4 linked regions of the Homo sapiens genome follow. The protein of the gene in region 2 purifies or fractionates together with the protein of the main gene of each other region. This does not show direct contact. Each region holds a gene or a part of one and is shown on either strand. Other genes may lie near its edges.

Evidence for each region.
Region 1: the proteins of ANKRD29 (region 2) and ADD1 purify together in Homo sapiens (affinity purification with mass spectrometry; 4 studies listed by BioGRID and IntAct, with this or other methods). This does not show direct contact.
Region 3: the proteins of ANKRD29 (region 2) and ADD3 purify together in Homo sapiens (affinity purification with mass spectrometry; 4 studies listed by BioGRID and IntAct, with this or other methods). This does not show direct contact.
Region 4: the proteins of ANKRD29 (region 2) and ADD2 purify together in Homo sapiens (affinity purification with mass spectrometry; 3 studies listed by BioGRID and IntAct, with this or other methods). This does not show direct contact.

What each region holds. Positions count from the first base shown.
Region 1 is NC_000004.12:2,839,260-2,846,850, forward strand, and holds the start of ADD1 (alpha-adducin), read left to right. Parts: upstream 1-4,584; 5' UTR 4,585-4,765; intron 4,766-4,890; exon of another isoform or gene 4,891-5,575; intron 5,576-7,591. UniProt on the Homo sapiens protein: Membrane-cytoskeleton-associated protein that promotes the assembly of the spectrin-actin network. Binds to calmodulin.
Region 2 is NC_000018.10:23,659,910-23,666,978, forward strand, and holds the start of ANKRD29 (ankyrin repeat domain-containing protein 29), read right to left. Parts: upstream 3,003-7,069; 5' UTR 2,822-3,002; coding exon 2,801-2,821; intron 1-2,800.
Region 3 is NC_000010.11:110,122,984-110,130,007, forward strand, and holds part of ADD3 (gamma-adducin), read left to right. Parts: intron 1-1,033; coding exon 1,034-1,291; intron 1,292-2,842; coding exon 2,843-2,962; intron 2,963-3,433; coding exon 3,434-3,520; intron 3,521-7,024. UniProt on the Homo sapiens protein: Membrane-cytoskeleton-associated protein that promotes the assembly of the spectrin-actin network. Plays a role in actin filament capping. Binds to calmodulin.
Region 4 is NC_000002.12:70,702,194-70,709,217, reverse strand, and holds part of ADD2 (beta-adducin), read left to right. Parts: intron 1-2,775; coding exon of another isoform or gene 2,776-2,809; coding exon 2,810-2,992; intron 2,993-4,758; coding exon 4,759-4,897; intron 4,898-7,024. UniProt on the Homo sapiens protein: Membrane-cytoskeleton-associated protein that promotes the assembly of the spectrin-actin network. Binds to the erythrocyte membrane receptor SLC2A1/GLUT1 and may therefore provide a link between the spectrin cytoskeleton to the plasma membrane.

The sequences.
Region 1 (7,591 bases), on a different chromosome or scaffold from region 2:
TCAGGCTCAGGTGATTCTCTCACCTCAGCCTCCCAAGTAGCTGGGACCACAGGCCCACACCACCAAGCCCAGCTAATTTTTTGTATTTTTAAGTAGAGACGGGTTTCATCATGTTATGCAGGCTGCTCTCAAACTCTTGAGCTCAAGCGATCTGCTGGCCTCAGCCTCCCAAAGTTGGGATTATAGGCGTGAGCTACCAGATTTTTTCTTATTAATCTAATAATTCTTTGTATAGTCTTGATATTATCCATAATGTGTATTGCAAATATCTTCTCTAACTCTGGCTTGACTGTTTATGGTGTCCTTTTTTTTTGGGGGGGGTTTTTTGAGACAAGGTCTTGCTCTGTCACCCAGGCTGGAGTGTTATGGCACAATCTTGGCTTATTGCAGCCTCAATTCCTAGGCTTAAACAGTCCTCCCACCTCAGCCTCCTGAGTAGCCGGAACTACAGTCACGCACTTCCATGTCCAGATAATTTTTTTTTTTTTTTTAGAGATAGGATCTTACTATGCCCCAGCTGGTCTCAAACTCCTAGACTCAATGAGCCTCCCATCTTGACCTCCCAAAGTGCTGGGAGTACAGGCATGAGCCACTGTGCATGCCAGTTCTTATTTTTAATGCAGTTGAATTGATCAGTGTTTTCATTTTGGTTAGTGCTTTTTGTGGCTTAAGAAATTCTTTCCAGGCTGGGTACAGTGGCTCACACCTGTAATGCCAGCACTTTGGGGGCAGAGGCAGGAGGATTACTTGAGCTCAGGAGTTTGAGACCAACCTGGACAACATGGCGAAACACCATCTCTACAAAAAATACAAAAATTAGCTGGACATGGTGGTGCGTGCCTGTAGTCCCAGCTACTCAGGTGGCTGGGGTGAGAGGATTGCTTGAGCCCAGAAGGTCAAGGCTGCAGTGAGCTGTGATTGTGCCACTGCACTTCAGCCTGTGAGACAGAGTGAGACCCTATCTCAAAAAAAACCAAAAAAAAAAAAAAAAAAAAGAAAACCACTGAAATTATTTCCACTCCAAGGTCATGAAGATAGTCTCTTAGATTATATTCTGAAATCCTTATAAATGTAAATTTCATATTTAGGCCTTTAATTCACCTAGATTTGGTTTTTTGCATATGGTGTGAGGTAAGGATTCACTTTCATTTTTTTCTCTCCATAGGGTTACACACCTGTCCTATCATTGTTTGTAATCTAACTTTCTGCGCCCATCTGCAATGCCACCTCTGTCATATGTCCACATATGACATATGTAGATCTGTTGTTGGATTCTTTCCTCTGTTCCATTAGTCTGTCTGTTCTTGTGCCAATATCAAGCTGTCTTCATTATTATCAATTATGTATTGAGATCTGATAAAGTAAGTCTTTTCCACCTTATTTTTCTTCTTTGAGAGTGTCTTGACTATTCTGGCTCTTTGTATTTTCATGTAAGGTTTTTCTCCCATATAAGTTTTAAAATCAGCTTGTCAATTCCAACAACAATGATGCACTTGATAGTTTGGGAATTTATTATAGCTATCAATCAGTTTTGGGAAAATTGACGTCTTTACAATATTGAGTTTTCTGATTCATGAACATGGTTTACCTCTCTTTCCATTTGGGTCTTCTTTAAGGTTTACCAATAGGATTTTATATTTTTGTCCATTGTGGTCTTGCTTATCTTAAGTTTGATTTGTAAATATTTTATGTTTCTTTTAGTCTATTGTAAATTGTGTATTTTTAATTTCATTTTTTTTTTTGTTAATAGCATATAAAACACACCTTGTCTTTTAACTGGAGCATTTTGTCCATTGTGTATTTAATGTAATTAAATCTACCATCTTATTTTATGCTACATATTGTCTCACTTGTGTTTGTGTTTTCTTCCTCCCTTTTCTCTCCTTTTCCCCTTCTTTGAGATTGAGCAACTTAAAACAAATCATTTCATTTCCCCCCTTCTCCTAGTTAGAAAGTTAAACACTCTCTATTCTTACTGAAGTCTAGAGTTAACTAATAAATACTTTTATCCTCCTCCTGGACAACATAAGGACCTCAGGTGACTTTCATTGGTCTCCCTCATTACTTGATATTATTGTTGTATATATCTAATTCTAACTCAATGTATTTTAAAACTCTCACCTAAGACCGTATTTGTTTTTTTGTTTTTTTTTTTTTGGAGGCAGAGTCTCTGTCACCCAGGCTGGAGTGCAGTGGCGCCATCTTGGCTCATTGCAACCTCCATCTCCTGGGTTCAAGCAATTCTTGTGCCTCAGCCTCCTGAGTAGCTGGAATTACAGGTGCCTGCCACCAGACCCAGCTAATTTCTTGTATTTTTAGTAGAGACAGTGTTCTGCCATGTTGTCCATGTTGATCTCTTAACTCCTGAGCTCAGGCAATCCTCCCGCCTTGGCCTCCCAAATTGCTAGGATTACAGGCAAGAGCCACCACGCCTGGACCTTTTTACTTTTTTGTAGTTGGAAAAGGAAGGAATATTTTAATAGCTTTAAAATTGTTTTATTATGATAAAATTTTCATATTATAAAGTTTATCATTTTAATTATTTTAAAGTGTACAGTTCTGTGGCTTTGCGAATATTCATATTATTGTTCAGTCATCACCACCATCCATCTCCAGAACTTTTTCATCACCCCAAGCTTAAACTCTGTACCCATTAAACACTAAATCCCCATTCCTCCAGCCCTTTGCAACCACCATTCTACCTCCTGTCTCTCTGAATTTGACTACTCTAGACACCTCATACAAGTGGAATCATACATTTATCTTTTTGTGATTGGGTTATTTCACATAGCATGTCTTCAGTGTTCATCCATGTTGTAGCATGCGTCAGAATTTCCTTTCTTTTGGCCAGGCATCGTGGTTTATGGGTTTATGCCTGTAATCCCAGCACTTTGGGAGGCTGAGTTTGGATTTGGGAAGATTGCTTGAGCCTAGGAGTTTGAGACCAGCCCTGGCAACATAGTGAGATCCCGTCTCTACAAAAAATAACAAAAATTAGCCAGGCATGTTGGCACGTGCTGGTAGTCCCAGCTACTTGGGAGGCTGAGGCAGGAGGATCCCTTGAGCCTAGGAGGTCAAGGCTGCAGTGAGCCATGGTTGCAACACTGCACTGCAGCCTGGGCGACAGAGACCCTGACTCCAAAAAAAAAAAAAAAAAAAAAAAAAAGGCACAAAACCCCAATAAATAGAATTTCCTTCTCTGCATAATGCTGCTATGAACATGGTACAAATAGCTGTTTTCATTTCTTTGGGGTATATATCCAGAAGTGGAATTGCTGGATTATGTGGTAATTATGTTTAATTTTTTGAGGAACCACTCTACGGTTTTCCACAGCAGCCACACCATTTTACATTCCCGTCAGCGATGCACAAAGGGTTCCAATTTCTCCGCATCTTTGCCAACACTTATTTTCTTTTTTTCCTCTTCTTCCTCCTTCTCCCCCCTTGAAACTTTTTGTTTTCTTCTCGTTTTTGTAGAGAACAGGGTCTCCTTATGTTGTCCAGTCAAGTCTGCCAACTCCTGGGCTCAGGCTATCCTCCTGTTTCTGCCTCCCTAAGTGCTGGGATTTTAGGCTGAAGCCACTGCGCCCAACTCCCTGCTTCTTCAACTGCCATCCTAATGAATGTTAAGTGGTATCCCACAGTGGTTTTGATTTGCGTTTCCCTAGTGATTAACTATGGGAAGCAGAAGTGAATGAGACAGAATTGTGATCTTGTCAGAAAAATCGTCTTGGAAAAGCCAACGTCCAACAGAAATGGTTAGAACAGGGGTCGCTGGCTTCCATCCAGACAGTATCCCTGACCCTTGTTGGGGCAATGTCACAGAGGCTCCTGCTGAGCAGGGAGGTCTGGATTCCACACTCTTCTGCCACTGCCCAGCTCTGGACCTAAGCTTTCTATGGGTGTCAAGAGGACAAGCAGCCGTGCCCATTTGTCTCGCTGCTTGTTTTTTTGGGTGTCAGATGCGCCAGCAGGAGGGACAGTGTGCGGGAAGGTGCTGGTCTGAGGCTGGTCCTGCCAAAGCCCCGCAGGCTCACTCCCTGGTCGTGCGGAGGTGGCTGGTGCTCGCTGGTCTCCTCAGCACCCGCAGGCCGGGCCCGGGGGCCAGGCAGTTGTCCTCTGTGGAGCCTTATCGGGGCCCACAGGCCCTGCTGCCTTGACCCCACCCGGGCCCCAAAACTCGGCCTGGGGACTGCACAAGGCGGGGCTACGCGGGGCAGGGCCCGTCTGCTGGGGGAGTGCGCTGGGCGGCGGCGGGAGGGCAGGGTCCCTGGGCTCCGACAGCCCCTCCGGCGGAGGTCAATCACAATGAAACCGTGTCCAGCGGACCCGGCAGGGGCTCGCCGCAGTCTACCTGGCCACCGTGAAGCCATGACCTGGCGCCCGAAGCTGCCGGCCGGGGTGTACTCCGCGCGGGACCCTGGGCCTCCGCAGGCCCCGGCGGGGTCGCCCCGAGGCGGGCCTGGCGAGTCCAATCGCCCTGCCCGCAGGGGACCCGCCCCTCATGGGTCCCGCCAATCGCAGGGTACGTTGCTCGGCAGTGCTGCGCGGCTTGGCCTATGGGACGGCGCGTTGTTGGGCTGCAGCGCCGCAGGCCGCACCCAGGTCGGGCGGTGGGGGCGAGCGGAGGGGCTGAGGGGCGGAGAGGCCTGGCGGGCCGCTGCTGCGGGCCAGGGGACGGGGGCGGAGCCGGAGCCGGAGCCGACGGGCGGTGGCCGCACTGGGACCCCGGAATCCCGCGCGCTGCCCACGATTCGCTTCTGAGGTGAGGCTAGCTAGCGGGGGCGGCGGGGGCCCGGTTCGGGCTGAGGCGGCGGCGGGGGCGCGGGGAACTGGGCCGCGGTTGCGGCGGGCGGGGGCCGCGGGGCCTGCGGCGGCCCGGGCAGCCTCGGGGGCGGGGAGGCCGCTGCGGCGCCGAGGGCGTCTTGGAGGGGTCCCCGCGGGGCCTTCGGCCTGGGCCGAGCCGGGGAGCGAGGGCGCCGCAGATCTTTCATCGGGATAGGACCCCGGGGACTAGGCTTTTCCCGGGCCGCTCGTTCCTGGCCGGCTTGTGGGCTGCAGGGGTGGGGGCGGAGGAGGACGACCCTGGCTGGACGCTGGTCAGCATCCTGCTTGTGAGACCGGTTCCGCGGTCCGCAGCGCTGGTGGCTGCAAGGTTTGTGTACGGACGCATCTGTCGGCTCTCGTATTTAAAAACGACGGCTTCTGCCAAAAGAGAAAAGCCATATCTGCCGACGGACGCTCGAGAGATAATCGTGGAACTTTATCAGCGATGGGGCTGTTGGTCACCTTTGCCCTCCCTCTCTTTTCTTTTTTCTTAATCTTTTATTTTCGTTTTTTGGGAGATGTCAGAGGGCCTTTCCCTGTTAGGATGACTTTTATCTTTGCTCTTGTAATGGCTCAAGATAGTTGGGAGGTAATTTGCATTCACTTTATGCATACCCACCTTGAAAAACGTATTTTGGTTCGCCTGAAACTGTTGTTGGTTTGAGCATAATTTATGTTTAGAAAGACAAAAAGCAATTGTCATATCTCCAAAGACCAAAGACATAGCTGATAGCTGTATGCATTACTGGTAAGTTAAAGAAAGATTTTTTGTGTGAAAAATTGACTGAGATCTTAATGGGGATAGGAAATAGAATGCTGATAGGTCGACTGTGTCTATGAGTAGAGGCGCCTAGTGAAAACAAGCTTGGAGTGGATGAGTAGGAGTTCAACAGGCACCAGAGAGAGGAGGGCATTTCAGGCAGAGGGTGTGAATTGTATGAAAGTGAGTTTGTAAACTTTGGAGCCTTGAATGGACAAAGGCCCGCGATGATACCTTTTTTTTTTGAGACGGAGTCTCGCTCTGTCGCCAGGCTGGAGTACAGTGGCGCGATCTCCAGTCACTGCAATCTCCGCCTCCCAGGTTCAAGCAATTCTCCTACCTCAGCCTCCCGAGTAGCTGGGACTACAGGCGCGCGCCACCACGCCCAGCTAATTTTTGTATTTTTAGTAGAGACGGGGTTTCACCATGTTGGCCAGGATGGTCTCAGTCTCTTGACCTCGTGATCCGTCCGCCTAGGCCTCCAAAAGTGCTGGGATTACAGGCGTGAGCCACCGCGCCTGGCCTACGTTAAAATTTTAATATACTCCTTTGATTTTGACAGTGGAGAAAACTAGAATAGTAAAGTTGTCTTTTCAGGAAGTGGATGATTTGGGCAGTCAAAACTGCTTTTCAGAGTTTCGATGTGGTTTACAATGGTATGGACAGCTGGTATGATTTGTTAGTTTTCTACTTGTGGTGTCTTTAGGTTTTAAAGTTTCGGAGAGTCGCTGAGTGATGTGAGTCTAAACTCTAGCCAGTCCCCGAATTGTGAGATAGTTTTCCTTCTAAAATATACTTCGTACAAGCTGGTCATTTTTCCCCTTAATTCTTTTGATGTTATCTGATATACTGAGAAGGTTTTGTTTGGTGTTCAGTTTTGTGTTACTGATTTTGCCATAAAAACTGTTTATTTACATGATTTTTAGTTTTTAGTTCTTATAGTCTTTGAATTGAATAAGAAAAGTAAATACTGAAATGCTTTGAAAGATAACAAAATATTTACTTATTGCTTGAAACTTAGAGTTAGATTGACTGCCCTTCCTTTCTTTCCTTCCATGTTTACCTCTTAACATATACACATATGTAGAGAGAATAGTATAAACCCCTTTTCTCAACCAGTTTCAACAGTCAATCTTGCTTCATCATATCCCCGCAGTCCTAGATATCCTTTAACCGTTAAATAGTTCAATATGTATATCTTAAAGACTTAAACAAAAGGTAAACATGAGTACCACTATCACAGAAAATGAATAATTCCTTAATACTTTCAAATATCCAGCCAGTGTTAAAATTGTCAGAATTCTCATTTTTTTTCTTAACAATTTCAATCGATCCACATGCTATCTATACAGTGTGACTCATTTTAATTGATAGTTTCCCCTCCATATTTAGTTTTCTCTTGTAATTTATTTATGGATGAAACCTGGTAGTTTGTCATGTGGAGTTATGCACAGTCTCAATTTTACTCTGTGGCATAGTTTCACAGAATTTACTGAAAACTGGTGGTTAGATCTAAAGGTATGATCAGATTCAGCTTTACTTTTGTCAAGCAAACTTCTTAGGTAAGTAGGCAGAAATGATTAGTAGTCTTTGTTCGCAGCCCTTGATTGTCAGTGCCTACAGTCATTTCAGCAAGCATTGAATATATTGATATTTGAATTCTATAACTTCTTTTATTAAATAGAATATTTTTATAAAGATAATTTTTCATGCCTCCACTATTTGGTTATCTTGAGGTATCTCTTACAGAAAAGGGAGGATAAATGCTTAATTCTTCTCCATTATTTACTAGGTTTCACATAATGAATTGTTTCGCTAATATCCTTCAAAAGTAGCCAATGAAGCTGGGCATGCTAGGATGGGCCTGTAATCGTAGCTGCTCCTGAGGCTAAGATGGTACGAACCTGTGAGCCTGGGAGGTCGAGGCTACAGTGAGCCATGATCACTTCACTGCACTACTCTGTCTCTTTAAAAAAAAAAAAAAAAAAAAGCCGAGCGTGGTGG
Region 2 (7,069 bases):
AGACCAGCCTGGCCAACATGGTGAAACCCCGTCTCTACTAAAAATGCAAAAATTAGCCGGGCGTGGTGGCACATGCCTGTAATCCCAGCTACTCGGGGGGCTGAGGCAGGAGAATTGCTTGAGCCCGGGAGGCAGAAGTTGCAGTGAGCTGAGATCATGCCATTGCACTCCAGCCTGGCTGACAGAGTGAGACTCTGTCTCAAAAAAATAAATAAAATAAATAAATAAAAATGACTGCATCACTTCATACTCCTACCAGCAATGCATGCAGATTCAATTTCTCCACATCCTTGCCAACATTCGTCATTGTCTTGCTGATTAAAGCCATCCTAGCGGGTATGAAGTGGTATCTCATTACAGTTTTGTATTTGCATTTCCAAGACCATGGCTAATAATGTTAAGCATCTTTTCAGGTGCTTACGGGCCATTTGTAAACTTCTTGGGAGAAATGTCTATTCATATGTCCACTTTAAAATTAGGCTTTATTTGTCTTTTTATTGTTGAAGTGCCTATCATCATTTAAAGATGCTCAAGTCTCTACCATTTTAAAGCAAACAAACACTTGGTCAATTCCAGATCCTTGCTGCAGCCACTGCCTTTTAAAAAGAATCTCTGGGTTGGGTGCCGTGGCTCATGCCTCTAATCCCAGCACTTTGGGAGGCTGAGGCGGGCGATCACGTGAGGTCAGGAGTTCGAGACCAGGCTGGCCAACATGGCGAAACCCCGTCTCTACTAAAATTACAAAAAATTAGCTGGGCTTGGTGTCAGGCACCTGTAATCCCAGCTACTCAGGAGGCTGAGCCAGGAGAATCGCTTGAACCCGAGAGGCAGAGGTTGCAGTGAGCCAAGATTGCGCCACTGCACTCTAGCCTGGGTGACAAGAGCAAGACTTTGTCCAAACAAACAAACAAACTAACAAAAATCTGTTTCTTGCAGAATTTCTTGAAAGAGTTCTCCACACTTGTGGATTCTACCCACTCTCTTTCAAGCTATTGCAATCTGGCTCCTGATCCTAACACCACTGAAAGTGCTCTTGGCAAGGTCACCAGTGCCTATTCCGTCACTAAATCCAATGGACTTTTCAATTCTTTGTTTATTTGATTTCCCTGTGGCATTAATAAACATCAAGGTCCTCTTCATCTTTGTTGAAAGATTAGAGATGCTTGGTGTAAGTGACAGCACATGCTTCTGAGTTTTCTCATTCGTCTCTGGCTGCTCTTTCTCAAATCTTCTTCAAGATTTTGTCCTCAGTCCTCTTATTTTCCACCTTTATATGGTTCCACTGGGCAATCATGTTCATTCCCATGGGTGCCTACTTAACACTGCTGACTCCTAAATCTCATCTCTAGCTGCTGCCCAGACTTGCCTCCTGGGATCGAGGAGAGTATATCTGTCTAATCAACATCTCTGCTTGGATTCCCATCTATCCTCAAAATTTATCCCAAACCAAACGTTTTATCTTTATCTCTCTTGCCTTCCCTACTGAATTATGCCGATTTAAAACTTTTAAAGTCGGCCGGGCGTAGTGGCTCACGCCTTTAACCCCAGCACTTTGGGAGGCCAAGGAGGGTGGATCACCTGAGGTCAGGAGTTCGAGACCAGCCTCGCCAACATGGCAGAACCCCGTCTCTACTAAAAATACGAAAAAATTAGCTGGGCATGGTGGCGCACGCCTGTAATCCCAGCTACTCTGGAGGGTAAGGAAGGAGAAATAGCTTGAACCCGGGAGGCGGAAGTTGCAGTGAGCTGAGATCACACCATTGCACTCCAGCCTGGGCAACAAGAGCAAAACTCCGTCTCAGGAAAAAAAACTTTAAAGTCATTCACATTCGTCTGCTTCGTTCCATTCTCACCACCTATGCACTGGTCCAGTACCATTTCTTAAAAAGATGACAACATCTTCCAGCTCCAACCCTCTTCTCCAAACCTAGCCAGAGATCTTTGCAACATGCACATCTCGCCATGTCACTCCTCTGCTTACATGAGCTATTGTCGGCAACGGGATTACAGTGGCTTAGGAGTCAGACACACTTGGGTTTCAGTCTTAACACCATAACTTATTGGCTGCAAAACCGTGGGTGAGTTAATTTCTCTATATCTTAGTTTTCTCATTTGAAAAAAAAAAAAAAAAGAGCCACGAAGAGCACCTCCCACAGGTCTCCCCCAGGGTTGAGACCATACACACCATGTCCTTGGTTCAGAGTCAGGCACATTTGAACTGTTTAATACATTTTAACTGCTATTTTTATTAAACCCTTTCAATCGAGGCAAATCAACCTCTTTCATCCTAAAATGTGGGGATTAGATGGAATGACTTTAATCAACTCTTTTGAGACAAGACACCTTTGGACCCTGAAGCCTCCCTGGGTGCTGGCCACCCCTCCGGGGAGGAGGCATCCGTGGGTGCAGCTGGTACTCCTGCATGAGGACCCAGAGGGTCAGGGTCGGGGACTCCTTCTGCTGCAGGACAGCGCTGACCCCAGGCTTCTTACCCGCCCCCGACCTGTTACCCGGCGACAGTCCCCGCCGCCCCGTCGCCGGGCACAGACTCAGCCGATCCACAGCCATGAGTGCGAAGCCTCTCAGGCAGGGCAGGCAGGCAAACCGCAAACCCACAGGGCGCACCCAGCCCCGCCGCTTCCTCCCGGGCCTCGCCCGCAGCTGGAGGAGAGAGGAAGGAGGAGGCGGCGGGCAGCGGGCAGCGCCCACCCCATCCCACCCCATCCCACCCCACCCGACCCCGCGGGCCCGGCCGCCCGAGCCCGGCCCCAGCCCTGACCCCGGAGTCCCGGTCGCTCACCTTGAAGGACATCCTGCACATGTCCGCGGCCGCCCGAGCGGGAGCCGGCGCGCTTTGGGCCCGGGGCGCCTTGTCCTCCCCGGCCCTTCACTCTCCCGGGGCTCTCGGCGTTCCGCAGAGGGGCGGCCTCCGACGCCGCGCGCTCCCGCCGCCCGGCCCGGCAGCAGCCGCCGCACACAGGGCCGGGCCGAAGGGGCGGCGCGGGGGCGCGCGCGCGCGCACACTACACATGGGGTGTCGCGTGGACGCGCTCCAGGACCTGCCACACACGCGCGTGCACAAACACCCCAAACTCCGCACGCACTGTGCACTTTCCACACACGTCCACACTTCCACACTCACTCGTCCACACACACACTCCAAACTCCACACACATTGTGCATACGCTCCACATTCCACACACACAGAGGTTCCACACACATACTTTCCACACTCACGCCCACTCACCCGCATGTACTCACACACAAACTCCATACATATCCTCCCAAATAGACTGGTCTGCCCCAGAGGACTCCCAACCTTCATTACAGCACAAATATTATAATGATGTAAAAATGAAGCTTGAGGAAAAAATTCATCCAATAGCTATTTTCGTTATAATTTCTTTCTCGGTTTCCTGGGAAACTTTTTTCTCCTGGGGAAAATATCTAGGAAACAAACCTTTTGATTGCACAAACAATAAGTGGTCTTTTCCTCTTTGAAGGGCAAAGGCCAATTTTGGAATAGACTCATACCCCTCCTCCTCCTCCGCGTTATTAATCCAGCAGTTCCCTCCTCCTCTGGGTCTGATGCTGCAGCCCTGGAGTATTGCAGTATGTGTGTCCACTCCTGCTGCCTGCCCAGGATTGGTTTGGGCGAAGTAAAACTGGGAGTTTTAAGTATAAACGGCAACAACAGCTCTTTGAGAGCATTTTAGAAAAGTGAAAGTAAAAAAGTAGCCCAGGCATAGTGGCTCACGCCTATAATCCCAACTCTTTGGGAGGCCAAAGGCGGGCAGATCACTTGAGTCCAGGAGTTCGAGATCAGACTGGCCAACATGGCAAAACTCTATCTCTACTAAAAATACAAAAATTAGCCAGGCGTGGTGGTGCGCACCTGTAGTCCCAGCTACTCGGGAGGCTGAGGTGGGAGGATCGCTTGAACCTGGGAGGTTGAGGCTGCAGTGAGCCAAGATTCGGTCACTGCACTCCAGCCTGGGCAACAGAGCAAGACTCTGCCTCAAAAATAAAAATAAAAACAAAACAAAAAAATAGTATAAAAATGGAGGTCTTACCCCCTCAAACTATAAGAATCCACTCATTCATTCTCCCCCTCCTTCCCTCTTCTCAATTAAATTTGTAACGAATATTTAATTTAAAAGGTAGAAAACAATTACAAATAAAAGTTAATGATAAAAATTAAAATGTTTAACCTTCATGGATAAATTGTATTACTTTGTGCTTAAAACAACTTTAAATTAAAAACATTCTGAACTTTTATAGAAAATTCCAATTTTAAAAATAAGGACTCTAAACATTTTCCTTGCCTTGAGTGCCTATAAATGACACAGTTTTTAAGTTGCCACACAACGTTATTATATAAAAATCAAGCATCAGAGGTTTTGCTTTAATAGTTTTTTGTTTGTTTGTTTGTTTTTTCTTCTCAGATGGAGTTTCGCTCTTTTGCCCAGGCTGAAGTGAAGTGGCATGATCCTGGCTCACTGCAACCTCCACCCCCCGGGTTCAAGCAATTCTCCTGCCTCAGCCTCTCGAGTAGCTGGTATTATAGGCTCCTGTCACCGTGCCCAGCTAATTTTTGTATTTTTAGTAGAGACAGGGTTTCGCCATGTTGGCCAGGCTGGTCTCGAACTACTGACCTCAGGTGATCCACCTGGTTCGGCCTCCCAAGGTGCTAGGATTACAAACGTGAGCCACCGCGCCTGGTCTGCTTTAATAGTTTTGATAAATAAAAGGGAGAAAGGAAAGAACTAATATTTTGAGTGTTTTCTAGGTACAAGGTGCTTTCCTTATAAACATTTTATGGGGTGAGTATTAACCCATTCCACGGATGAAAAAACTAAGATTCTGAGAGATTGGAGTAATTTGCTAATAAGTGATAGGGCTAGGTGTTTGTCTAGCTCCAAAGCCTGTTTCCTTTCCGTTACACTTGAGCTCAAAGCTGCTTTTCTCTGGCCAGGGTGCTGATGGGATTCTTGTCAGTCTCTGGAAAGAACGTGCCTAACACCGTCTGACACACGCGGTTAAACTCATCTTCATATAAACAGCTCTGAAATGGAACAAAGCTCTCATGGTCACAACAGGCAATTCTTTCTAAAATGGTCCACTCCAAACTTTAATAGTGACCCACTGGACCTAATACAAGATTTAATCTGCACGGCCCAGTTTTCTTATCCAAACATCTTCTCACTACCCAAACAGAGCCTCTCCATCCTTGTCATCCTGTCAAACAAAAGGGATAAAGGAAAAAACTAATATTTTGAGTGTTTTCTAGGTACAAGGTGCTTTCCTTATAAACATTTTATGAGGTAGGTATTATACCTATTCCATAGATGAAAAAAGTAAAATTCTGAGAAAATGGAATAATTTGCTAATAAGTGATAGAGCTAGGCGTTTGTCTAGCTCCAAAATCTTATCACTGCTCTCTTCCCACTACGGCTCTCTTTCATCTCCTCTCTTTTGTCTGCCAAATCCCAACCTACCCAGGGTGTTACCCCCAGCTCAAGTTCCTCTTCCTACACCCTGGTTCTCAGTCATCTTCCTCCCAACTTTGCTGAGCTCTTGCCATGGTTCTGCTCTACACCACATCCCTCAACCCTGATTCCACAGGGTCTGGTATTGCTCTCAGTTCTACTTCTGTTGCTTTTGATTTCTTCAGCAGAGTTGAAATTCTTCAAGGCCAGGCCCTGTGTCTTATGTATCTTTTATTTTCCCCAGGGGCTAATTTACGGCTGGAGGCATGGTAGATGGTCAAAACTTATTCATCATTGAATTAGTAAAAGAGTCAGGGGGTTGTGTTATCCAAATCTACCAAGTCAGAAGGCCCACTCTTATCCACAGACATGCATTACTCAGATGCACAGACATCTGTGTTGATCTCAAATGAGTCCATAGTCATTGTCACCTTCTGTTCACACCAGCACAGACCTTGATGTGTTTGGCCTCTATTTTGCACTGTCCCAGTTGATGGTCCAACAGGATTTGCCCTCGACAGAATTGAGAAGTAGGTCAATCTGGTCTACTGAGCTTTCTTTTTTTTTTCTTTTTTCTTTCTTTCTTTTTTTCAAGACGGAGTCTTGGTCTGTTACCCAGGCTGGAGTGCAGTGGCATGATCTTGGCTCACTGCAACCTCCACCTCCCGGGTTCAAGCGATTCACCTGCCTCAGCCTCCTGAGTAGCAGGGATTACAGGCACAGGCCACCAAACCCGGCTAATTTTTGTATTCTTAGTAGAGACGGGGTTTCACCATGTTGGCCAGGCTGGTCTCAAACTCTTGACCTCGTGATCTGCCAGCCTCTGCCTCCCAAAGTGCTGGGATTACAGGCATGAGCCACTGCGCCCAGCCTACTGAGCTTTCTAACACCCTTTTTGTAATCAGGCTCCTTCATCCAACTAAGAGTTCATGCTGGACATCTTTTCTGTCTTTATTCTCTGTCTACTTCCCCATCCCACATCTTTTAAAATTTTTGTATCTATTTATTTTTTATAAGGATAGGGTCTCTGTCACCCAGGCTGGAGTGCAGTGGCAGGATCACAGCTCACTGCAGCCTGGAATTCCTGGGCTCAAGCAATCCTAATGCCTCTGCCTTCTGAGTAGCTAGGACTACAGGCACATGCCACTATACCGTCTAATTTTTAAAAACATTTTTTTACAGATAGGATCTCGCTATGTTGTTCAAGCTGGTCTTGAACTCCTGGCCTCAAGCCATCCTCCCACCTCAGCCTCCCAAAGTGCTGGGATTACAGGCATGAGCCACCATGCCCAGCCCTTGTTTAATTTTTAATTTTTATTTAATTTTATTTTTTAGAGATGGGGCATCACTATATTGCCCAAGCTGGTCATTAAGTCATAGGCTCAAGTGATCCTCCCTGTCAGCTTCCCAAAGTGCTGGGATTACAGGTGCATGCCACTATGCCCAGCTTCCACCTCACATCTCCCAGCTAGTTAGCTCCGTCTCTCCTAACCTATTGGAATTTACCCTAGATGAGGCTTCTTGCAGTGGGGACTGTAGCAGACACAGCTTGGAGTAATCTACCCAACACCCATTGCTCC
Region 3 (7,024 bases), on a different chromosome or scaffold from region 2:
TTCTGTGCCTGGTTTATTTTATTTAATACAATGTCCTCTAGGTTCATCCATGTTGTCACATTTGACAGAATTTCTTTTTTAAAGCTGAATAGTATTCCATTATGTTGTATATACCACATTTATATCCCATCCATCAATGGACACTTAGGATGATTCCATATCTTGGCTATTGTGAATAATGGTGTACCTAACATGAGAGTACAGATACCTCTTTGACATACTGAGTACATTCCCTTTGGATATATATCTGGTAGTGAGACTGTTGGGTGATATGGTAGTTTTATTTTTAATTGTATGAGGAACCTCCATACTGTTTTCCACAATGGCTATACTAATTTACATTGCTACCAACAGTGTGCAAAGGGTCCCTTTCTCCCTACATTCTAACACTTGTTGTCTTTCATCTTTTTTATAATAGCGATTCTAACAGGACATGCCATCTCGTGCTTTAATTTGCATTTTCTTGATTAGTGATGTTTTAATACACTTGTTGACCATTTGTATGTCTTCTTTTGAGAAATGTTTATTCAGATCCTTTGCCTATTTTTTAATTGGGTTCTTCTCTTGTTATTTTTTGAGTCCCCTATATATTTTGGATAGTAACCCCTTAAAAGATGTATGGTTTGGCAAATGTTATTTTAGATTTTACCCTCTTCTGTGAAGGCTCAGAAGGCTGACTGCCTTCAGACCCAGGAACAGAGACTTAAATGAGCACTGAGATTTGCTTCCCCAGAACAGTTTTATAGATAGAAAAGCACTTCTGGTCAGCAACTTAGAACTGTTCGTTTGTCGGGAACAGTTGTGTGAGTGGAAATTGCAATATCAGCTGTTATCAGCTCTAACTAGGTCTTGAAATTTGCATAATTTCAGCTCCAGTGTTACATGAAAGTTATGTGGTGTTTGGAAGGATGCCTTTTTCTTTGTTTTTTAGCAAAGGAGTCTTTTAAATCATTTGTATACAAAAGGAATTAGGATCCAAATGCTGTTATTGATACAGGTTTGATGCTTCAAATGTGGCTTTTCCCTCCCTTAGGGGTATAGAACAGGCTATGCTTACAGGCATCCTCTCATTCGAGAGAAGCCTAGGCACAAGAGTGATGTGGAAATCCCAGCAACTGTGACTGCTTTTTCCTTTGAAGACGATACAGTGCCACTCTCTCCTCTCAAATACATGGCACAGAGGCAACAGCGTGAAAAAACAAGATGGCTGAACTCACCAAATACTTACATGAAAGTGAATGTGCCTGAGGAGTCTCGGAACGGAGAAACCAGTCCCCGAACCAAAATCACGGTATGCCAGTATTTTATGTAGTTTGCCTTTACTAAATATTTTGCCTAGTTACTCAAGAATTGAATGTTCTATATTGAAAATATTTGGAAAGTAAAATAATATTAAAAATATTACTGTCACTTATCTGGCTTTAACTTTGTGCAAGACACTCTTCTAAGTGCCATACACGAATTTTCTCATTTAACTCTCCTAATATGAATGATGCTGTTTTTCTATTTTATAGATGAGAAAACCAAGGCAAGAAGGGTTAATTAATCATGTTTTAATGGTAAACTCGGGATTTGCATGAAGACAGTCTGACTCTTGAGCCCAGTTCTTGTCCACTACATGATACTGCTTTGTAGTTTCTATTAAACTACACCAGTAGTTTAATTCACCAGTGAATTAAAACTGTAAAAGTTATCAACTCCTAATTGTACCAAAGCTGCATGAATCACTGCACATAGCTACCCTTAGGCAAGATCTTGTAGGTAGAGAAATGGGTTATTTTATCTTTTTCAGAATTTTGCATTAGATTTGGTTTGGTTTGGTTTTGGAGTGCATACCACCAAACATTCTCTAGGTCAGTCTTGTCCAGTCCATGGCCCAGGATGGCTTTGGATGCAGCTCAACACAAATTTGTAAACTTTATTAAAACATTATGAGAATTTTTTGTGATTTTGTTAAACTAATCAGCTATCGTTAGTGTTGGTGTATTTTATATGTGGCCCAAGACAGTTCTTCCAATGTGGCCCAGGGAAGTCAAAAGATTGGACACCACAGTTCTAGATATTCAGAATTAGTTCATCTTATATAAACTAATGGCATTCAATATGAAAATACCTAGGCATCAAAATGTCTTTTCTGTAGTCTATAAGATTTCTTGCCTCCCAGTAAAAGAACATAATTAAACTCATTGGTTTCTCAGAATTCATTTTGTTTACAGAGATTGATGGTCAGCCATCATTAATCTTGATCGAGATTCGCTTTCTTTAAGGATTATAATATGGGGTAAATGAGAAGAATTATGTAAGCTCCTTCCAACCCCGTGGTTCTATTTTGCTATTATATACCAGATTATCCCCATTATAAAATGCCGATTAGGGCTTGGCCTTTTCTGTCAGCCAAAAATAAAAAGTGAAGTCTGATAAACTAAAATCTTAAGATATTTCTTAAGTTTTTTTTTTTTTTGATTACTCCTTTGCCATCTTCATCTGACTGCTGTCTTCAGTGCAGAAGACAAAACACTGAATGTGAGTGAATGTGAGATCATGCTCTCTGTGCTTGAAGTAGTTTCAGCATCATATTTTCACTTGACACAAGGAGAAAGTTTAATTAGCAGTATAATTGAATATTTATGTGAATCGTAATGGCATTTATTTTTTAAGTAAATGTTGATTTTGAGCCTTTTCTAACTAGTATGAGATGAAACTAATTCACCACTAAGATACTGCTTAGTGAAATTATTTAAACATTGGCAATGCCCCTCTTGAGACTATAAGCAGTTATCTAACAATCTACTAATATTTTCTTAACACAAAGCTTCATTTTAGAAAATTTTTGATTCTTTAGTGGATGAAAGCAGAAGACTCATCTAAAGTTAGTGGTGGAACACCTATCAAAATTGAAGATCCAAATCAGTTTGTTCCTTTAAACACAAACCCGAATGAGGTACTAGAAAAGAGAAATAAGGTAAGACATGGTCTTCTATAGCCAGGGGAGACATTTTAATTGCTTTATGTTTAAATCACCAGTGGTTGAATCTGGTTAATGCCAAACTTAGAAGTTTGAATACAGAAGAATTTGGAATTTAATTCAGTATAATTTTAGCTTATATTGAATGCCTCCAGCTCTGTGCTAGTAATTGGTGAACAGGCTACATGGGGAAGATGTATTGAACATTTTTCTGCGTTAGAGAACCCTGCTATTAGGGGGAAAATGCAGTTCTCTAACAACCTAAGACGAAAGGAAATAACTTGCCATAAAGAGCAGAGGAGACTAATATGAGTTGTTAGGATGGTAAAAGAGGTCTTTATGGAGGTGGGAATTGAAGAGACTCTCACTCTGGAAATGTCAAGTAGTAAGCTTTTATGAAAAGATAAAGCAAAGGTCATCTGCATAGTTGCCCTCAAGAACTTTATATTGAATTGTTTTTCAATTCAGATTCGGGAACAAAATCGATATGACTTGAAAACAGCAGGACCACAATCTCAGTTGCTTGCTGGAATTGTTGTGGATAAGCCACCTTCTGTAAGTTTATGAAGTAGTATGATCTTTGTTTTTTATTTACCACATTAATTTCATTGATTTTTAAATATGAATATTTATTTTTACTAAGGTTAATATAAGCACAAGTTAAAAAGTCAACTCACAAGATTTAAAATGTCACCCACAATTCCCAGTTTCCAGGTGCAGCAACTTTCTGTTCTTTTCATTGCTTCTAATGTTTACTTTGGTGTTTCTGGTTAGTTAGTTGAGATGAGGTCTCACTCTGTTGCCCAGGATAGTCGTGAACACCTGATCTCAGGTGATCCTCCAGCCTTGACCTCCTGAAGTATTGGGATTACAGGTATAAACCACTGCTCCTCGTCCTCCTTTGATGTTTCTAAAGAGCATCTTCTGCTTTTTCTTGGTCTATCAGTTTTAGACCTTGACTATTTTTCATCAAATCTGTGTTATCCGTTATAAGAAGTACCATTGTTTTATATGTCACTAAAAGAGAAAAAACACTGCCAATTATAATTGTTCCCAATTTCAGAGATGGAAAAAGTTCATCTTAGAATTAATGAAATATTTTTGAAAGATGGGGATTTAGCCTGTTTATACAGTGCTTCCCTTTTTCCCTCTCCCCATTCTCCCAGTAAGGATACATCACAGTTTTTGTTTTTTGTTTTTTGTTTTTTTCTGTTAGATCAGCTTTCGTTATTTATATTACTACATGTTTGCTGCTAAGCCAGGTAGTATTTCCTTTCTTACATAAGTCACCCCTCCCTACTCTCACCTTGCCTTTTTTTCATTGGCTTATTATTTGGGGTACATTGGCTTAGTTCTTCCCGAACTTTTTAAAAGAATTATAAAGTCCCGGCTGGGTGCAGTGGCTCACGCCTGTAATCCCAGCACTTTGGGAGGCCGAGGCGGGCAGATCACGAGGTCAAGAGATCAAGACCATCCTGGCCAACATGGTGAAACCCCATCTCTACTGAAAATACAAAAATTAGCTGTGCGTGGTGGCGTGCACCTGTAGTCCCAGCTACTCAGGAGGCTGAGGCAGGAGAATCACTCGAACCCGGGAGGCAGAGGTTGCAGTGAGCCAAGATCATGCCACTGTACTCCAGCCTGGTGACAGAGCGAGACTCCGTCTCAAAAAATAAGAATAACATAAAATCTGTCCTAATATTATTTTCCACAGGGTGAAAGTCAACAGGTAATCTCTCTGTTCCAGCCCCCCTTCATTCTGATCCAAATCTAAATTGGTTGCTCTCAGGCCAGCTGCACAGGTTCATCTGGAGGATTCCTGTGCTGCTGATCTATATTGTATTCCGTTTCCTGTATCTTGTGTCTTCTGCTTTCTTGATTTCCTCCTTTACTGTAGAACGCACCCTCTAATAGCTTTCCGAGAAAAGGATACATAGGTGGTAACAGTCTGAAATGCCTTTATTCTATCTTCAAATGTGCATATAATGGATATAGAATAGTTTAGAAATAATTTTCCCCTGAAATAAGAAAAGCATCATTCTGTTCCCTATTTTATTGTTGAAGTAGGAAGGCATTGGAATTCCTGAACCTTTGTTTAGGATTTTTTTTTTTTTTTTTTTTTTGCTTTTAGACCCTTTCTGCATCCCTGCTGTTCTGAAATTTTATGATTGTGTGCTGATCTCTTTTTAGTCTTTTTTCTAAGTAATTAGTAACCCTTTTCAATCTCCAGAGTCATATCCTTCAGTTCTGGAAGTTTTTTAAAAGTGTTTCTTCAAGAGTGTTTTCTTCCCATTTCTTTTTCTGTCAGTATATTATGTTAGTTTGGATGTTGGGCCTCTTTGAGCCTCTGATTTTTTTCTTTTCTCTCCTACTTGCCATCTCTTTATCTTTGTATCCTACTTTCTGGGAGAATGTTTTCTAACCCTTTTAATTTTTTATTTTGATGTTAACTTTTTTAATTTATTTTATTTTATTTATTTTTTTTGAGATGGAGTCTCGCACTGTTGCCCAGGCTAGAGTGCAGTGGCGCGATCTTGGCTCACTGCAAGCTCCGCCTTCCTGGGTGCACGCCATTCTCTGCCTCAGCCTCCCAAGTAGCTGGGACTACAGGCGCCTGTCACCGTGCCCGACTAATTTTTTTTGTATTTTTAGTAGAGACAGGGTTTCACCGCGTTAGCCAGGATGGTTTCAATCTCCTGACCTCGTGATCTGCCCGCCTTGGCCTCCCAAAGTGCTGGGATTACAGGCGTGAGCCACCACGCCCAGCCAACTTTTTTATTTTTAATAAGAGTTCTTATTCCCTGAATGTTCCTTTTTAATAACATCCTGATCTTTACACTTTCTCTTATTGCTCTAAGGGTATCAATTTTAAATTTTCTTCATTTGCCTTTGTTGTCTTTGTCTATTCTGAGTTGTTCCGTATGTCTGTTTATATGGAAGAATGAGACATTAAAGCATATCAGAAGCTCTGGGTATACACAGAGCTCGGGGATTGGTGGGCTTCACTGTAGGGTGATTGGATGTGGACCAGGTTGTTTCTCTGGGGAATCCCCAAACATTATTCTCTGTAATTCTTTTATCTGGGACTATTTAGTTTATCTGGAAAAGAACTCCAGTCTCCTGCCAGTTTCCAACCATCATTCTAGGAGCCTGCAACTGTATTTTGTGTCCCCTAGTTAGTTTTTCTTTCTTTCTTTCTTTCTTTTTTTTTTTTTTTTGAGACGGAGTTTTGTTCTTGTTGCCCAGGCTGGAGCGCAATGGCGTGACCTCAGCTCACGGCAACCTCCGCCTCCCGGGTTCAAGCCATTCTCCTGCCTCAGCCTCCTGAGTAGCTGGGATTACAGGCATGCACCACCATGCCCGGCTAATTTTGTATTTTTAGTAGAGGCAGGGTTTCTCCATGTTGGTCAGGCTAGTCTCGAACTCTGGACCTCAGGTGATCTGCTCGCCTTGGCCTTCCAAAGTGCTGGGATTACAGGTGTGAGCCACCGCGCCCAGCCTAGTTTTTCTTTCTCAAGCCTCTGATCTTCTGCAGAGATGAGAGAGAGGGAAATGCTTGGCTCTGTGGAATAGGGAAGGGAACCTGGGAATCTGTTTCCTATTCAGACTTTGAACATGTTCCTCTATTTTCACCTTTTCCTTACCACCACCTTCTATGGTACCTATTGCCTCTAGTTTATGGGCCTTACCAGACCTCTTCAGGGCAAATAAGCATGCTTCTCATTTGCATCCTTTTTTTCAGGACTGAGGCTTCAACTTTCTCAGCTCTGCTACCTGCTGTTCCACTTGCATTCCAGCTTCCAAAAATATGTTAACATTTCTCATCCTTTGTTGTTTCATCTCACATTCTTTTGTCCTTAAGGGTGTTTTGTTTTGTTTTTTTCTATTCCTTTACTATCATTTTAGTGGGGTTTTGGGAGGGATGAAAAATAAATACATGGGTTCCATATGCCAACTGCAACTGAAATTCTCATTATTTCCTTTCCTGGAGAAAACAGCTACAAGCTTATTTTCGTAACAGATTTAAAGAACTACTTTTGGTACAGTTTCATTTCTGTA
Region 4 (7,024 bases), on a different chromosome or scaffold from region 2:
AGATCAGGTAAGGGCTTTCATAAGAAGATGACTAACTAGTGGAATGATTAAGATCATAGGTCCTGGTTTGGCAGCTTTGCAGAAGTGGGCCATGGTGGCATTTGGAGCACTCCCACTGCCTGTTAAAAGAAAAATTTTAGATGAATTAAACTTAACAGAGTTTGAGCAAAGCATGATTCAGGAACTTGGGAGCCCTCAGAATCAGAATGGTTTCTGAGTGACTCTGAGGCTGCCACATGATTGGATACATTTATGGACAGAAAAAGGAAAGTGACCTACAGAAAATGGAAGTGAGATACAGAAATGACTGGATTGGTTACAGCTTTGTATTTGCTTTATTGGAATAGTGTTTGAATAGTTGGCTACCTGTGATTGGTGGAAGCTCAGCTGCTGTGGTTGGCTGAGACTCAGCTACTTGTCACAAGAGTAGGTTACAGTCTATTACACATCAAGTTGGGTTACAGTTTATTATACGTGGAAAAGCCCTTAGGCCACACTTAAAATATGTAAGGAGGCAGCTTTAGGCCAAACTTAATGTAACATGTCCCAGGCCAAGTGTATGATAGCAGATGGTGGTTTGAACGAGGGGAGGGGCCTAGACAGCTATGGGACTTGGCCTGTGATGTGAGAGTCAGATTATGTGAGGTTTTGTGCCATCTTATGTCAGACTTGCTAGAAATGGCCAACACCTGGAATGGATGCCTTCCATTACATGTTGCAACCATTAACATCTAAACTATGGATATTTCAACCGAGGCTGCTCACTAGGGATTAGGGAGCTTTTGAAAAATCCTGATGTCCAGGTCATACCTCAGACTAATTATATTAGAATATCTGGCATCAGTACTTTTTAAAGTTCCCAGGTGATGCTATTGTGCACCCAAGGTTGAGAACCACTGCTCTAGGCTGAGGGCTCAGGCCATCAGCTGACCCTTGAGGAACTCTGTCCATGCGCCTTCCCTTGAACGAACTGTTTGCCTTTCCCCTAGAGGAAGAATGCAAACAAGAACAACAGGAAACCATCTGTGTATTCTGGGCTGATGGGATGGCCTTCCACTGTCCTCCAAGCTTATCTATGGCATCATTCTCCCCTCACCCCACCCAGAGAGACTGCAAAGGTAGTGTGTGGAGTTCTGGTAGAATGTGGAAGAAGAGGTTACAGGCAGCTCAGGGACAACAAGAATATGCTCTACTGGACATCAGCAAAGCCTCCTTTGTAATGAGCTTCTGACCAGAATCAAGGGTAGGCTGGGGCCAACAGGACTGCTGGAGCAAGGCCGGAGGGAGCCAGGACTGGCCAGCCACAGGCAAAGGGCAGATCAGGACCTGGGAGGCCAGGAGTCTTCTCCCAAAGAACAAGAGAGCATTCCATCTCCTCATGGAATGGGAGCCCATGGAGGTAAAGCAAGGGAGTGGCAGGTTATGGATGAGAACCCAGGTGTCCTGGTCCCTTGTAATGCTCTTTTATTTGTATCTTCACATATATGTTAAAAAGCTAATTATTGTTCAGCCAAAGTACATGCTGCCTTCTGCTGAGAAGAGAATCAGCCAGCAGGGAGAAGGCCAACGCTCTGTAAGGCCACCCTGGGTGTTGAAGGGGCAGAGCACCGATTTGAAGGCCTTGCAGTGCCGACACAGGAAAGGAGACGGGCTTCGCAAATTCCCACTGCCGGGAAGTGAAGCCCGGAACTGCAGGCTTACTCTTCAGAAGGGCTCCAAGATAGCAACAGAAAACATTTCTTCATTCATCATTCACACATTTTAAAAAGTATTCTTGATTAGAAAAAATCCACAGGTTTCCCCCAGCTTGACTTTCCAGAGGCTGTCGTGGTCCTTGCTCCAGGGAGCAGGTTTACACGCAGCACGTGGGGCTCTGGCAGCCGGGCAGCATGGCACCCTGCAAACCATATTTAGTTGTTGTTTCTCAACATGAGTTGAATGGGATTGGAGAGAAAATAATTTTCCATTAATAAAGTTGCACACCTCTTTTTAAACTTGGAATAAGAATCTGATTCTGCATTAAAACAAGTTTCAGAAAAACAGATTCACCAATAAATTCCTTTCCAGGGGCCAGAGCGAAGTTTAAGTTGTAAAGAAAAGCATTGGGCAAAGCGCTTCCCACGTTTCAGTAGTTCCTGTGCTCTTTTAGTAGTAGTCTTAGTAGGCCCTGTTTAATAGTAGTATTCTTTTGTGAATTTCCCACCATAATTTTTTTTTCTTTTTAGTTCTGTGATACGTGTGCAGGATGTGCAGGTTTGTTACATAGGTAAATGTGTGCCATGGTGGTTTGCTGCGCCTATCAACCCATTACCTAGGTGTTAAGCCCAGCATGCATTAGCTATTTCCACCATAATTTTTGAGGGGCCTTATTAGAGGGTTTCCATTTTAGATGAAGTACTGATTTCCAGTAAGTAGCTTACCACTGCATAGGTGTGCATCACAGAAATGCTCAACAAGGTCTGCAGGTCATGTTTCCATTCGGGGAACTCTCTACTCCAAGCCAAGTGTGACCATTTAAGGGCTGGCTAGTTGGGGAAGGGAGTGGACACCTGAACCCATGTTTTTACTTAGTCTCATGGCACAGCAGCGCCCCTATAGATGGGTATATGGGGCCGCTGCTGGCGTCCTGCCCTCCTCCCCAGGCTCTGCCTCTACCATCCTAGGAACAGCCGTACCCCACTGAGAATCCAACTGAACCTAGCCCTGTGCTCTGAGAAACGTGTACCCCGATGGGGAGCACCAACCTGACCGCATACCCTCTCCCCTTCTCTGTAGAGTTCCAGGAGCGAATTGCAAACCCACCGGGAAAATGAGCGAAGAGACGGTCCCCGAGGCTGCCTCGCCGCCGCCCCCGCAGGGGCAGCCTTACTTTGACCGCTTCTCAGAGGACGACCCCGAGTACATGCGCCTTCGCAACCGGGCGGCGGACCTGCGGCAGGACTTCAACCTGATGGAGCAGAAGAAGCGCGTCACCATGATCCTGCAGAGTCCCGTGAGTGGGGCTGACCCGGGCGGGAGAGGGCGCAGGGGGCGCTGGCTCTTCAGGACGTGTACCCACCCGAAAGATGAGTAACTCCTCTTTCCCTTGCTCAGGGTCAGTAGAAATGTAAGCCCACTGAGCAAGACGGATCTGGTCACCTGGGGCCTTGACACTCTCCCTTGTAACTGGTGGATGGCAGAACCTGGCTTGTGTGTGGCAGTTTGGCTTGGTGCGGGGGGAGGTGGGACGGAGACAGGAGTCCCCCTCAGTTTCCTGTGCCCCTTCGGAGCCTCAGTTCCCAGTCTTCCCTCCTCACCAAAAGCTATGACAGTGAACGGACAAATCCATGTAAACTAGAGACCAGCAGGGTGCCAGGAGGAGGGCTTGGGGCTCCCTTTACTGAACACCACAAAGTAAGAACTTTCTGTCGGGACAAATGAAGCTTTGACATGAATGGGATGGGGCTGAGGAGAGCCTGGAAGCCCCAGGAGGTGGGCAGAGTGGAGGGCTCAGCCGGGCTGTGGGATGGGGTGTGGGAAGGGAAGGCAAGTCGGGATCACTCACATCCCTCCTTACTTGGGGCCAGTTGGTTCCTGCCTGGCATGGACACAGCTCCTCCTTGAGGCAGGTAGTGCCTTGAGAAGGCCGAAGGGTGGGCCCTGTGGACCACTGAAGGCAGAGGGAGATCACTGTGGTGGAGGCAAGAGGGGTCTGACTGAGGAAGAGCTTGGGGGGCCTCAGGAATCAGCCCATGATCCTAAGGATCGGGAAGCCCAGGGACAGAGTTGGCATCTCCAATTGCTTGCCAGGATGGGCTCGAGATGGGAGCCGCTCTGCCTTGGCCTTCTGGGCTCCAGAGAGCCAGGGCCTGTGCAGGGGCTGTGTGAGACCCTGGCTGGGAGCCATGGTGCATACTCAGGCCACACAGAGCAGCTCCAGGGAATGGGCCGAGGTCCAATATCTGTGCCCAGATATTGTGTTGGGGAGCTGGGAGGAATATGGCAGATGCTGAAAGCATTGGGGTGAAGAGCCTCTGGGAAAACCCCCAGAGTGTGACTAGGAGGGGTGGCAAGGGGGTTAGGAGAGGCGGCAGAGTTAGCACCAGCCCAGATTTCAGGGCTCAGGCAGTAAATAGGGGTTGGAGGAGGGCCTGCTTCCTTCTTCCCTTTTACAGGTTGGCCAACACACCTAAGTGGCCCCCCATTTCCTCCTGAGTGTTTTCTCCTGCCACCTGGTGGGCAGGATTCCTTGCTTATGGCTTCATGGTCTGAAAAGCCAGGCTTAGAGTTGGACATCAGGAGTGGAAGTGACCTCAGAGGTCATCAAATCTTCCTGTTCTTCCTCCTACCCTTTCATTAAGCACATGAGGAAACTGAAGCCCGAAAGAATCACAGGCATCGCTAATGGAGAGGGATGGTGGCTCTCTCCATTCAGTTCTGCCTAAAAAAATGTCCTTCATTACTAAAGTGAAGTCCTACCATGTCTGATGGTGGGGAGGGGTCTTGGCCCTCATTTAGACACAGAAAGGACCTGGAATCTGGATTACTGCCCACAGGGCAAGGGAACACAAGATCCATTCCCAGCATTTCTTTGTTGCTTCCCATACAGCAATTCCTGAGGTCCTAGTGGAACTGCTCAGTGTCCCCTGTAGCTGGGGACCCTGAGCATGGCCCTGACCTAGCTGACCCAGGGGCAAGGGGTGGGCACTTGGAAGAGCTCATTGTTGGGCAGCTGTGTGAGAGGCTGTGGGGGGACAAGCACCTCGGGGCCTGCTTCAGTCTTTCAGGGAGGAGCTGGAAGGCCTCATCCAGGAGCAGATGAAGAAGGGGAACAACTCCTCCAACATCTGGGCCCTGCGACAGATCGCGGACTTCATGGCCAGCACCTCCCACGCAGTCTTCCCGACATCTTCCATGAGTATGTGGTGTCTGGGGAGCTGCCAGGAGCAGAGGTGGAGGGGAGGGTGGGGTGGGGAAGAGAGGGAGGAGCAGCAAGAAGCATCTGGTTGCCAGGCTATGGAGTAAGCAGCCCATTGTGTTATCAGGCCTTGGGGAGCTCAGCAGCAGCCAGAGAGGTACCTGGCTCTGCTTCTGATGTTGCTGCAAATTAAACGTCCACAGAAAAATTACCCCAATGCCAGGAATAAGAGGGTGGAGGTGACTTCAGTGGACGGGAAGAGACCACTGAAGCCTGTGTTTCCATGCCCCACTAGACAGGCCAACCTGACTCCACAGATGAGGGCTGAGAGGAGCCAGCCAGGGCTATGCAGGAAGCCACCCTCCTGGGCTGTTATGCTCTGCCCATAACGTTTAAAACACAAGCATCAAAAAATAACTCCCCCTCAATAAGATTATTACAGGATTATGGCTGAAAACTGTGAAAATAACCAAGAAAGGGAAGCAGAAATCATTCTACTGTGTTCTTAAAGCCCTCATATTACTATTCTTAATATTTTGGTGAACATATATCCTTCCAGTCCTTTTTTTCTTAACATATATAGATTATGCAAACACAAATGTAATCACATAAAATATGGTTCTATAATATAATTTTTGGTGGATACATGCTATTTAATAAATTTCCCATTGTTGGACTTTTAGGTTATTTCCAACTTTTTCTGTTAGGAACAATGCAATAAACATCCTTGTAAATAAACCTGAGATTATATCCGTGATTATTTTCTTAAGATAAATTACTAGTAGAATTGCTGAATTGAAGTACATGCATGCATGTTTTAAAGACTTTAATGCAGAATGGCAGATTACATCCTTTCTCCAAATGGATCCAATTTACGTTCCCAACAGTAATGCGGTAGAGTGCCCATTTCCTCTACCCTGGTCCATAGTGTATACTACCATTTGTTTCATCCTCCTGATTCAGTAGGTGACAAATAATACTTTATTTGTGTTTTAATGTGCATTTGTTTGACTACTGATGAGGTTGGATATATTAATGTATTTTCACATACATATTGGACATGATTTTCTTCCTTTCTCTCTCTCTTTCTCTTTCTCTCTTTCTCTTTCTTTCGTTTTCTTTTCTTCTTCCTTTCCTTTCCTTTTTCTTTTCTTTCTTTTCTTTTCTTCTTCCTTTCCTTTTTCTTTTCTTTCCTTTCTTTCACGCAGAATCTCACTCTGTTGCCCAGGCTAGAGTGTAGTGGTGCAATCTCAGCCCACTGCAACCTTCCAGGCTCAAGCAATCCTCCCACTTCAGCCTGCCAAGTAGCTGGGACCACGGGCACGCACCACATGCCTGGCTAATTTTTGTATTTTTTGTGGAGACAGGGTTTCACCATGTTGCCCAGGCTGGTTTGGCACTTCTGGGTTCAAGTGATCCACCCACCCCGGTCTCCCAAAGTGTTAGCATTACAGACGTGAGCCACCGTGCCCGCCCCTGACTTTCTTTTTATAGTAAATTGCCTTTTTACATCCTTTGCCTATTTTCCTATTAGTGTATTATTTTCTTATAGATTTTTACATTTTTATAAAGTAAAGCTGTTTCTCTATTATCTGTCAAATATATTGCTTTTTTTTTTTCCAGTTTCTCCTTTGTCTTTTAGTTTTGTCCATGGCATTTTTTTTGTCTTGTAGAATTCTTTAGTTTCTGTGTAGCGGAAACCATTGTAATTTTCCTTTGTGTGTTCTGCTTTTGATTGCATGCTTAGAAATACCTTTCCCATGTTTCATCATCTGATGGAACAAATACCCTTAATTATGCATTTGTCAATTTTCCTCAACTGTTTGTACAAGTTTATTCTTTACAATAACTTTAGGCCAGGCACAATGGTTCATGCCTGTAATCCCAGCACTTTGGGAGGCCAAAGCAGGTGGATCACCTGAGGTCAGGAGTTTGAGACCAGCCCGGCCAACATGGTGACACCCTGTCTCTACTAAAAATATAAAAATTAGCCAGGCATGGTGTTGCATGCCTGTAATCCCAGCTACTTGGGAGGCTGAGGTGGGAGAATTGTTTGAACCCTAGAGGTGGAGGTTGCAGTGAGCTGAGATTGCACCACTGCACTCCAGTCTGAGTGACAGAGCAAGA